2 separate regions of the Homo sapiens genome follow, and region 1 is linked to region 2. Evidence: fine-mapped expression QTL. A gene starts in region 2. The other region holds a variant in brackets. All regions are shown on one strand. Distances are from middle to middle.

Evidence for each region.
Region 1: its variant is fine-mapped to the expression of GABRA3 in nasal epithelium (TOPMed, PIP 0.99).

The regions. Positions count from the first base shown.
Region 1 is chrX:152,238,793-152,243,792 of GRCh38, reverse strand. The region is part of intron 5 of GABRA3 (gamma-aminobutyric acid type A receptor subunit alpha3); the gene reads left to right. Among named protein-coding and RNA genes, the nearest start is that of MAGEA10, 100 kb to the right of the region's middle. The variant C/T (reference allele first, on the strand shown) is at 2,172.
Region 2 is chrX:152,448,690-152,454,217 of GRCh38, reverse strand. It overlaps GABRA3 (gamma-aminobutyric acid type A receptor subunit alpha3), which reads left to right and starts at 2,903. Exons shown (of 10, transcript NM_000808.4): 1 at 2,903-3,072.

The sequences.
Region 1 (5,000 bases), 210 kb after region 2:
ACTGCTTGCTTCATTTCCCCTCCCTCCTTCAAGATTCTGATACATATACCTTCTGCCTGAGATGTGTGGAGAGTCAGTGGAAAGACATGAACCCAGTATGCTGAATCTCAGTCGTTAGACTTCTTGTCTTCCCTAGATACATCACTCCTTTTGTAGTATCATCTAGTCTTAGGGCTTCAATTAGCATCTGCAAGGTGTTAGCTAACAAGACACAGAGAACTGAAGTAACTTACACATAGCTACTACTACAAGCTGGGTTCATGGTGGACCTGGGTTTTAAATCTGGCAGTCTGGCTTTGGAATCCATGCTCTGTTTATAATAAATAAATAAAAATAATATGTATTTATGGTGTACAACAGAATGTCTTGATATATTTATGCATTGGGGAATAGCTAAATCAAGCTAATTTTCATATGCATTACCTCACATCTCAATTTTTGTGCTGAGAACACGTAAATTCTGCTCTCAGCGATTTTTAAATATATAAAACACTGTTATTAACTATACTCACCATGTTGTACAATAGATCTCTTGAATTTATTTTTCCTGTGTAACTGAAATTTTATATTCTTTGACCAACATCTCCTCAATCCTCCCACTTCCTGGCCACCATTCTACTCTCTTTCTATGAGTCCAACTTTTATACACTCCACATATAAATGAGATTGTAGAGTATTTGTCTTTCTGAGTGTGGCTTATTTTGCTTAAGATAATGTCCTCCATGTTGTCGCAAGTGGCAGGATTTCCTTTTCTTCTAAGGCCAGGTAGTATTTTATTGTGTATATATACCACATCTTTTTATCCATTTATCCACCAATGAATGCTTAAATTGATTCCGTATCTTGGCTATTGTGAATAATGCTGAAATAAACATGAAAATGCAGATATTTCTTCAACATACTGATTTCATTTCCTTTGGATGCATGTACACACAGTAGTGGGATTGCTGGGTTATATGGTATTTCTATTTTTAATTTTTGAGGAACCTCCATACTGTTTTTTATAATGGCCGTATGAAAGAGTTCTCTTTTCTCCACATTCTCGCCAACACCTATCTTTTATCTTTTTGATAGTAGCCATCCTAACAGGTGTGAGGTAATATCTGATTGTGGTTTTGATTTGAATTTCTCTGATTATTTATGAAGTTGAGCCTCTTTTCATACATCTAAGACAAACATTTATTCAGATCCTTTGCCTATATTAAAAATTGGGCTATTTGTTTTCTTGCTATTGTTGTTTGAGTTCCTTATGTATTTTGAATATTAACCCTTTATTTGATATATAGTATGCAATATTTTCTCCCGTTCCATAGGTTATCTCTTCACTGTGTTAACTGTTTCCTTGGATGTGCAGAAGCTTTTTAGGTTGATGTAATGCCATTTGGCTATTTCTGCTTTTGTTGCCTATGCTTTTGGGGTCATTTGCAAAAAATATCATTGCCCAGGCCAGTGCTGTTGAGCTTTCTCTCTCTGTTTTCTTCTACTAGTTTTATAGTTTCAACTCAAAATATATTGAGTTGACTTTTGAGTATGGTGTAAATGGGGTCCAATTTCATTCTTCTGTATGTGGATATCCTGTTTTCCCAACACCATTTATTGAAGAGACTGTTCTTTCCCCCATAGTGTGTCCTTGGCATCTTTTATGAAAACCAATTGACTGTAAATGTGCAGATCTATTTCTGGGCTCTCTATTCTGTTCCATTGGTCTATGTGTTTGTTTTTTTGTTAGTACCATGCTGTTTTGAGTACTATAGAAATCAAATAGGAGGAGCCAAGATGGCCGAATAGGAACAGCTCCGGTCTACAGCTCCCAGCGTGAGCGACGCAGAAGACGGGTGATTTCTGCATTTCCATCTGAGGTACCGGGTTTATCTAACTAGGGAGTGCCAGACAGTGGGTGCAGGCCAGTGGGTGCGCGCACCGTGTGCGAGCCCAAGCAGGGCGAGGCATTGCCTCACTTGGGAAGAGCAAGGGGTCAGGGAGTTCCCTTTCTGAGTCCAAGAAAGGGGTGACGGACGCACCTGGAAAATCGGGTCACTCCCACCCGAATATTGCGCTTTTCAGACCGGCTTAAGAAACGGCGCACCACGAGACTATATCCCACACCTGGCTCAGAGGGTCCTACGCCCACGGAATCTCGCTGATTGCTAGCACAGCAGTCTGAGATCAAA[C/T]TGCAAAGCAGCAGCGAGGCTGGGGGAGGGGCGCCCGCCATTGCCCAGGCTTGCTTAGGTAAACAAAGCAGCCGGGAAGCTCGAACTGGGTGGAGCCCACCACAGCTCAAGGAGGCCTGCCTGCCTCTGTAGGCTCCACCTCTGGGGGCAGGGCACAGAGAAACAAAAAGACAGCAGTAACCTCTGCAGACTTAAGTGTCCCTGTCTGACAGCTTTGAAGAGAGCAGTGGTTCTCCCAGCACGCAGCTGGAGATCTGAGAACCGGCAGACTGCCTCCTCAAGTGGGTCCCTGACCCCTGACCCCTGACCCCTGAGCAGCCTAACTGGGAGGCACCCCCCAGCAGGGGCACACTGACACCTCACACTGCAGGGTATTCCAACAGACCTGCAGCTGAGGGTCCTGTCTGTTAGAAGGAAAACTAACAAACAGAAAGGACATCCACACCGAAAACCCATCTGTACATCACCATCATCAAAGACCAAAAGTAGATAAAACCACAAAGATGGGGAAAAAACAGAACAGAAAAACTGGAAACTCTAAAACGCAGAGCGCCTCTTCTCCTCCTCCAAAGGAACGCAGTTCCTCACCAGCAACGGAACAAAGCTGGATGGAGAATGACTTTGACGAGCTGAGAGAAGAAGGCTTCAGACGATCAAATTACTCTGAGCTACGGGAGGACATTCAAACCAAAGGCAAAGAAGTTGAAAACTTTGAAAAAAATTTAGAAGAATGTATAACTAGAATAACCAATACAGAGAAGTACTTAAAGGAGCTGATGGAGCTGAAAACCAAGGCTCGAGAACTACGTGAAGAATGCAGAAGCCTCAGGAGCCGATGCGATCAACTGGAAGAAAGGGTATCAGTAATGGAAGATGAAATGAATGAAATGAAGCGAGAAGGGAAGTTTAGAGAAAAAAGAATAAAAAGATATGAGCAAAGCCTCCAAGAAATATGGGACTATGTGAAAAGACCAAATCTACGTCTGATTGATGTACCTGAAAGTGATGGGGAGAATGGAACCAAGTTGGAAAACACTCTGCAGGATATTATCCAGGAGAACTTCCCCAATCTAGCAAGGCAGGCCAACGTTCAGATTCAGGAAATACAGAGAACACCACAAAGATACTCCTCGAGAAGAGCAACTCCAAGACACATAATTGTCAGATTCACCAAAGTTGAAATGAAGGAAAAAATGTTAAGGGCAGCCAGAGAGAAAGGTCGGGTTACCCTCAAAGGGAAGCCCATCAGACTAACAGCGGATCTCTCAGCAGAAACCCTACAAGCCAGAAGAGAGTGGGGGCCAATATTCAACGTTCTTAAAGAAAAGAATTTTCAAACCAGAATTTCATATCCAGCCAAACTAAGCTTCATAAGTGAAGGAGAAATAAAATACTTCACAGACAAGCCAATGCTGAGAGATTTTGTCACCACCAGGCCTGCCCTAAAAGTGCTCCTGAAGGAAGCGCTAAACATGGAAAGGAACAACCGGTACCAGCTGCTGCAAAATCATGCCAAAATGTAAAGACCATCGAGACTAGGAAGAAACTGCATCAACTAACGAGCAAAATCACCAGCTAACATCATAATGACAGGATCAAATTCACACATAACAATATTAACTTTAAATGTAAATGGACTAAATTCTCCAATTAAAAGACACAGACTGGCAAATTGGATAAAGAGTCAAGACCCATCAGTGTGCTGTATTCAGCAAACCCATCTCACGTGCAGAGACACACATAGGCTCAAAATAAAAGGATGGAGGAAGATCTACCAAGCTAATGGAAAACAAAAAAAGGCAGGGGTTGCAATCCTCGTCTCTGATAAAACAGACTTGAAACCAACAAAGATCAAAAGAGACAAAGAAGGCCATTACATAATGGTAAAGGGATCAATTCAACAAGAAGAGCTAACTATCCTAAATATATATGCACCCAATACAGGAGCACCCAGATTCATAAAGCAAGTCCTGAGTGACCTACAAAGAGACTTAGACTCCCACACAATAATAATGGGAGACTTTAACACCCCACTGTCAACATTAGACAGATCAACGAGACAGAAAGTCAACAAGGATACCCAGGAATTGAACTCAGCTCTGCACCAAGTGGACCTAATAGACATCTACAGAACTCTCCACCCCAAATCAACAGAATATACATTTTTTTCAGCACCACACCACACCTATTCCAAAATTGACCACATAGTTGGAAGAAAAGCTCTCCTCAGCAAATGTAAAAGAACAGAAATGATAACAAACTATCTCTCAGACCACAGTGCAATCAAACTAGAACTCAGTATTAAGAATCTCACTCAAAGCCTCTCAACTACATGGAAACTGAACAACCTGCTCCTGAATGACTACTGGGTACATAACGAAATGAAGGCAGAAATAAAGATGTTCTTTGAAACCAACGAGAACAAAGACACAACATACCAGAATCTCTGGGACGCATTCAAAGCAGTGTGTAGAGGGAAATTTATAGCACTAAATGCCCACAAGAGAAAGCAGGAAAGATCCAAAATTGACACCCTAACATCACAATTAAAAGAACTAGAAAAGCAAGAGCAAACACATTCAACAGCTAGCAGAAGGCAAGAAATAACTAAAATCAGAGCAGAACTGAAGGAAATAGAGACACAAGAAACCCTTCAAAAAATCAATGAATCCAGGAGCTGGTTTTTTGAAAGGATCAACAAAATTGATAGACCACTAGCAAGGCTAATGAAGAAAAAAAGAGAGAAGAATCAAATAGACACAATAAAAAATGATAAAGGGGATATCACCACTGATCCCACAGAAATACAAACTACCATCAGAGAATACT
Region 2 (5,528 bases):
TTATTCACTGCTTTGGCCTGGGGGCTGCCATCAGACAAAAATTTCCAGAAAAGGAAAAACTCACTTAGTATTGTTCCCTCCTTTCAATTATTAATTCCCTTTCAATTTTTGCCTGTTTATGGGTTGCTTTCCTGTGCATTTAAATTGTTTTATTATATATTTGGTCCACTGTTTATTATTGTTATCTGCATCAGGGTTGGTCTGATAGAAGCTTCTTCACCATTGCCAGAAGTTTTCCTAATAAAGGATTCTGTTTTTTTTGTTGTTGTTGTTGTTTGTTTGTTTTTGGTTTGCAGTCAAGTGGGAAAATTATGAAAATGCTGTGAAGTTTTCATACAGGTATAATTGTATGATTCAGAGAAGAGTTTTTTTGTTCAGAGAGTGTCTTAATCCAACTTATTTATATTAAAATATCTTTTCTTTAAAATAAATGGTGGCACCCAGATGGTTTATTTGTTTGTTTGGTATCTTTATTAGATGAAAAGTTTTCAATTGTAGTAGACTGAATAGTGTCCCCCAAAATTCATGTTCGTCTATAACCTCAGGGTGTGACCTCATTTCAATGGTATGGTATTTGCAAAAGGAAGTAGTTAAAGATCTTGAGATGAAATCATTCCGGATTTAGGTTGGGCCTTAAATCCAATGACTGGTGTCTTTATAAGAAAAAAGAGGGAGATTTGGGCACACAGAAATCAGAGGAGAAGACCATTTGAAGACCGAGGCAGAGATTCAGTGATAAGCCAAGGAACACTGGAAACCACCAGAAGCTGGAAGAGACAAGAAATCATTCTCTAGAACTTTTGGAGTAGTTTGACCCTGCCAGCATCTCGATTTTAGACTTCTGACCTTCAGAACTGTGAGACAATAAATTTCTGTTGTTTTAAGCTACTGAATTTATGGTAATTTGTTATGGCAGCCCTAGAAAACTAATACAGCAACCTTAATATTTCTTTTTGCCAGTATACTAATCTATTAAATCCAATGGACATTTATGCAAACAAATCTACACATGAAAATGGGTACCTATGCAGGAAAAAGTATTTATAGCTTTATGCTCACATACACACTTGCTTTATGTGCAAGTTACATGTTAATTTTGTAGAGAAAAATACTGTACCTGCAGTCAGCAATCTGAGTACTGGCCTTGATTCTGCCACTGACTCACTATGACCTTGTGTGAATTATATTTTCTATTTAGTCTAGTTTCTTTTTCTGTACAATGACATGGTTATCTTTATGGGTCCCTTTAGCTCAGTGACTCTAAGCTTACGAGTACCTATCTATCTTCTACTCAATGTATGGACACATGCTTTTGAAGATGTATAGGAGTGTAGCACATGTACTTCATTTGGCAGGAGTAGAGAGCATTAGAAATTTGGGGGAAAAAAACCAACAGGATGGTAGTTTAAAGAGAAATGGCACACTATGGGCAACATTGTAAATGCCTATTATGTCCCAGTCACTGTATGTATATTGACACTAGTATACTTAAACACACTATATAACTCACTTTCAATTAGATGCCCTCTGAATTTTTCTAACAGGACTAGAAATCACAATATGAAGAGTTTGACTAAGAAAACTTTTATACTAATCATTATATGTAAGCAGATGCTGAATTCTTTGATAGGAACAGCTCTTTATTCACGTGCTTATATTGGTATTATCCCTGAAACACAAAAGATGGAATGTTGAATCAATGTGATTTGGAGTCGCATTTGGGGACTCACCTTTGGAGAACTTTTGAAATGTGGCAGTTTAGTTTTTATTTTCTAAGGGCCAACTTCTCCTTTACCTGGAATTTTCCTGTCTTTAGATTCCTAGACTGTTAGTTCTGGAAGGGTCTTTTAAGATCATCTATTTCCATTACCATTCATTTGGTCACTGAGGATATTGAGGGCCAGATTGAAGAACTCGTTGAAAGCAACACAGCAATTTTCAGAGGCAGAACTCAAACTCAAGTTCCTTTATTTTATTTTTAGCCTAGGTCTTTTTCCACTCTATGCTGCATTGTTACTGTGCTTTGCCTAGGTTGCTTTTTTTCTTTTGACCCAATGGGAATATAGTTCTTTTATACTTTGAGTCAATAATTATCCTTCTCCCCACCTTAGTCCTTGTGCAACTCATGTATAGGCTCACACAATTACATACATCTATATTCCCTTTGGAATTTTTGAAAAGAAAGCATTGTGGTTCTGCTGCTTGTCTGTCTTACCTACAGGGAAGCTAGAACTGATAGTTTTGAATTGGGTCTGCACTTCTACTTGGTTGAGGGTGGGGGTGGAAGTTAGGTCAACAGGGGATCAATGTGGCGGAACTCTTTCTTCTTAGTGGAGTATGAATGACAACCCCTTTGATGTACATTTTTCTAGCTCATTATTGTCCCCAGAGATGGAATCTGAACAGACAGGATTGTCAAACCTTTATTTGCAGCCTGGGTTAGAAGGCACGCCCATAAGGATATAAGGGAGACAGAGGGAAAAAGGAGGAAGCTCACTCTTCAGTCTCGGAGCAGCAAGTAAGCATCACACATCAGCTACAGTAACCCATACTTCCTTTATCCTCCTATTCGCTCATACCCTTTTGCTCTCTTTCTCTTCCCTTTGCTGCCTCTGCTCCTCCCTTTCTCTCTGGGCTTCCCTCTATTTCTCTGTTGGATGCCTTAAGGAATAAAATACTACTTTAGTATTTCGTAAAACAACCACATCTAAAGCCTTGCAGTACTGTATTCAGAGCCCCAGCACAGCCGCGTGCTAAGCACCAGTGGTGAACCTAAAGCCAGCAAAGGGGGAGGGGAGAAGGGGAGGGGAGGAGGGGAGGGAGAAACTGACAGAGAGGGAGGGAGGCAGATTGAGAGAGAGAGAGAGAGAGAGAGAGAGAGAGAGAGAGAGCGAGAGAGCGTGAGCGCGCGCAAGCTAGCGAGCAAACCAGAGAGACAGACCGAGAGAGGGACCAGGAGAGAGACCCAGAGAGAGAAGAAGAAGCCAGAAGCCGAGCTCTGTCAGGGCTCAACCTCCAACTTGTTTCAGTTCATTCATCCTTCTCTCCTTTCCGCTCAGACTGTAGAGCTCGGTAAGAAACATTGATGTTCCTTCTTCCCCCTCCCCCAAGCTCAGGTCTCCTTTAGCGATAGCATCTCTCCCCCGTACTGAGAGTCTCCTTGGGTTGGCCGGGAGGCGAGGCATGCTCTGCAGCTGTGATGCTATCCTGGGTTCCCCAGTGGGGCTGGTGGAAGCCCAGAGGCGGCATCTGAGCAGGGAGACACTGGGGTAAAACCCGATTTGAGGAAGGGGGGTTGCGATGTGGTATATGCGTGATTTGCTTCATTGTCAGTGAATTGTTTTGTTCCTCTTTGGAAGCAGGTCAGCACTGACCTTGCAAATTGCTTGGGGGGCCCCAGCAGCTGCTGCAGAAAGCCACGGAGTGGCCCCTAGCCAAAGCAGACAGCACTGTCATGACCCCCCAGACAGCTCTAGGCACCAGGGATGTAGTAATGGCTGGAGCTTTCTCCCTTCTTTAACTCTTTCTCCGCAGCTGCTTCTCACTGCTGGAAATAAGAAAGAAGGAGGGTACCTTGCAGCCTCTTTCCCCATCTCCCCATTACCTCCCCCACATGCAAGTGAGTAGAAAGTTGTAAATAACTGCTTCCTTTAAAGCAGATTGAGCCCTCCCCCCTTCCTTTGAGGGGCTCACTGTGGGGTTGGGCCTGACTTCCTCCACAAACTTGGGAGGTTTGCCTTGTTTCCCGGCGAGAAGCTCCATTGCCTGCCCACCCTCAATTCCAGATAATTGAGCTGACATCCTAGATCAGAGATTGAGATACCCCACCCCATCTCACTCATAGGCATCATGTTAAGTCCAGCTGTGTCCTTGGAAGGGAGGAAACACCTGATGGTTTGTCTGCAACTGGCCTCCCAGTTTGTTGCTCCTCTGACTGTGGCTGTGGCTGTGGCTGCGGGTGGCATGGGCAAGAGGACTGGGGGAAGGGTGGCTGTTGGATTTATGGAAAGCAGGGTGATGAGGTAGGATTACTAACGTGAGTAGTTTGGCTTATTGAGAGTCAGCAAGTTCTGGTTGTCTGGAGCTCTGCAAAGACTGATTGAGGCTCTTGTAGTATAGCCCTTCAGAACTGGTAGGGGAAGGGATCCAATTGTTTGATGGGAGCTTTCTAAGTGAGTGACGCTGCTGTGCCTGTGGTAGTAATTCTGACATCCCTAATACTAATTGCTAAAATTATCGAGTATGTAGTATATTTTGGATTCTGGGCTGAGTGTTTGGTGTGTATTACTTCATTAAATTACTGTAGCAGAATAGTGCATTGAATAACAGACACTATTATTATCTTTGGTTTACTCACAAAATTGAGGCACAGAGAGGTTAAGTAACTTATCCAAGATTACAGAGCAATTACATGTCTCAGTTGGAAATTAAACTGGCAACCTGGTTCCAGAATCCGTGGTCTTAACCATGAAGCACTACTGCCTTCTTGGGGAGAATTTTGCACCTTTGTCTGTTAGGCAAGTGTAGATACAATAGGTACAGTGTGGCTTGGCAAGGTTTTTTGGAAAGTAGCGGCCTGGCTTTCGTGTAGAGTAACAGCAACTCAGCCTGGAGCCGGGCTTCACCTGGATTTCTGGAGGGGCTGCCCAAAAGACTTTGATTGGTCAGCTTCCTTTCCTTGAAAATCGTACTTCACTTTTTATAGCCTCATCCACCCAACATGCTCCAAACTGCACCTTTTAAAAACAGACCTCATTCTTATTTCCTGAGCATTTGGAGTTGTTCTGTGCCGAAAATTTTAGAATACTAAAACCTTGGAACTGGAAGGAGCCCAAAAGGTCATTCATTAAGCTTTATTTCTCTACTCAGTTCTTGAATTTATCCTAAGCATCCAATTTGTTGACTGATTTCTAGTTGAACTCCCTGCAGTGACAGAGAGTGCATTAGGTGGCTCTTTGTGTCATGGAGCAACTCTGATTGTCAGAAAGTATTCCCCATCATAAGCCAAAGTCTGTTTCCCAGTAACTTATATTCGTTGGTTCTTTGGGACTATCTGGAACAAATTTGCTTTTTCTTAATAATAGTTCTTCAGTTAGTTGAAGACAGCAATCATGCCTCCCTCTTAACCCTTGGATCCAATAAGACCACAGAGTAAAGGATTATCATTTACTTCATGCTGGATATTAGACTATTCTTAATATGGCCTAATAGCCCACTTGTTTTGTTAGCCACAAATTGACCCTACGGAGTTTTCTAGAGCAGCCCTGATAGTGTATATTCTCTTCCTTGGATGAGCTTGCTATCTGGTGTCAACTGGACTGATGGGAGCAAGGAAGGTCGCTTTCATATTCCTAAAGACCAGAAATTGGTTAGTACTAGTCCTTCTAAAGCCCCCAGGATGTCTATATGGCATCCGGACAATAGGCGTGTGGGAAGATTTGAGTGGCAGGAATTTTCATAAAGAAAATTATGAAATTTTCTAATTTCATGAAGAAAAGTACCACATTTGAAATAGTGGTAGTTCAAGG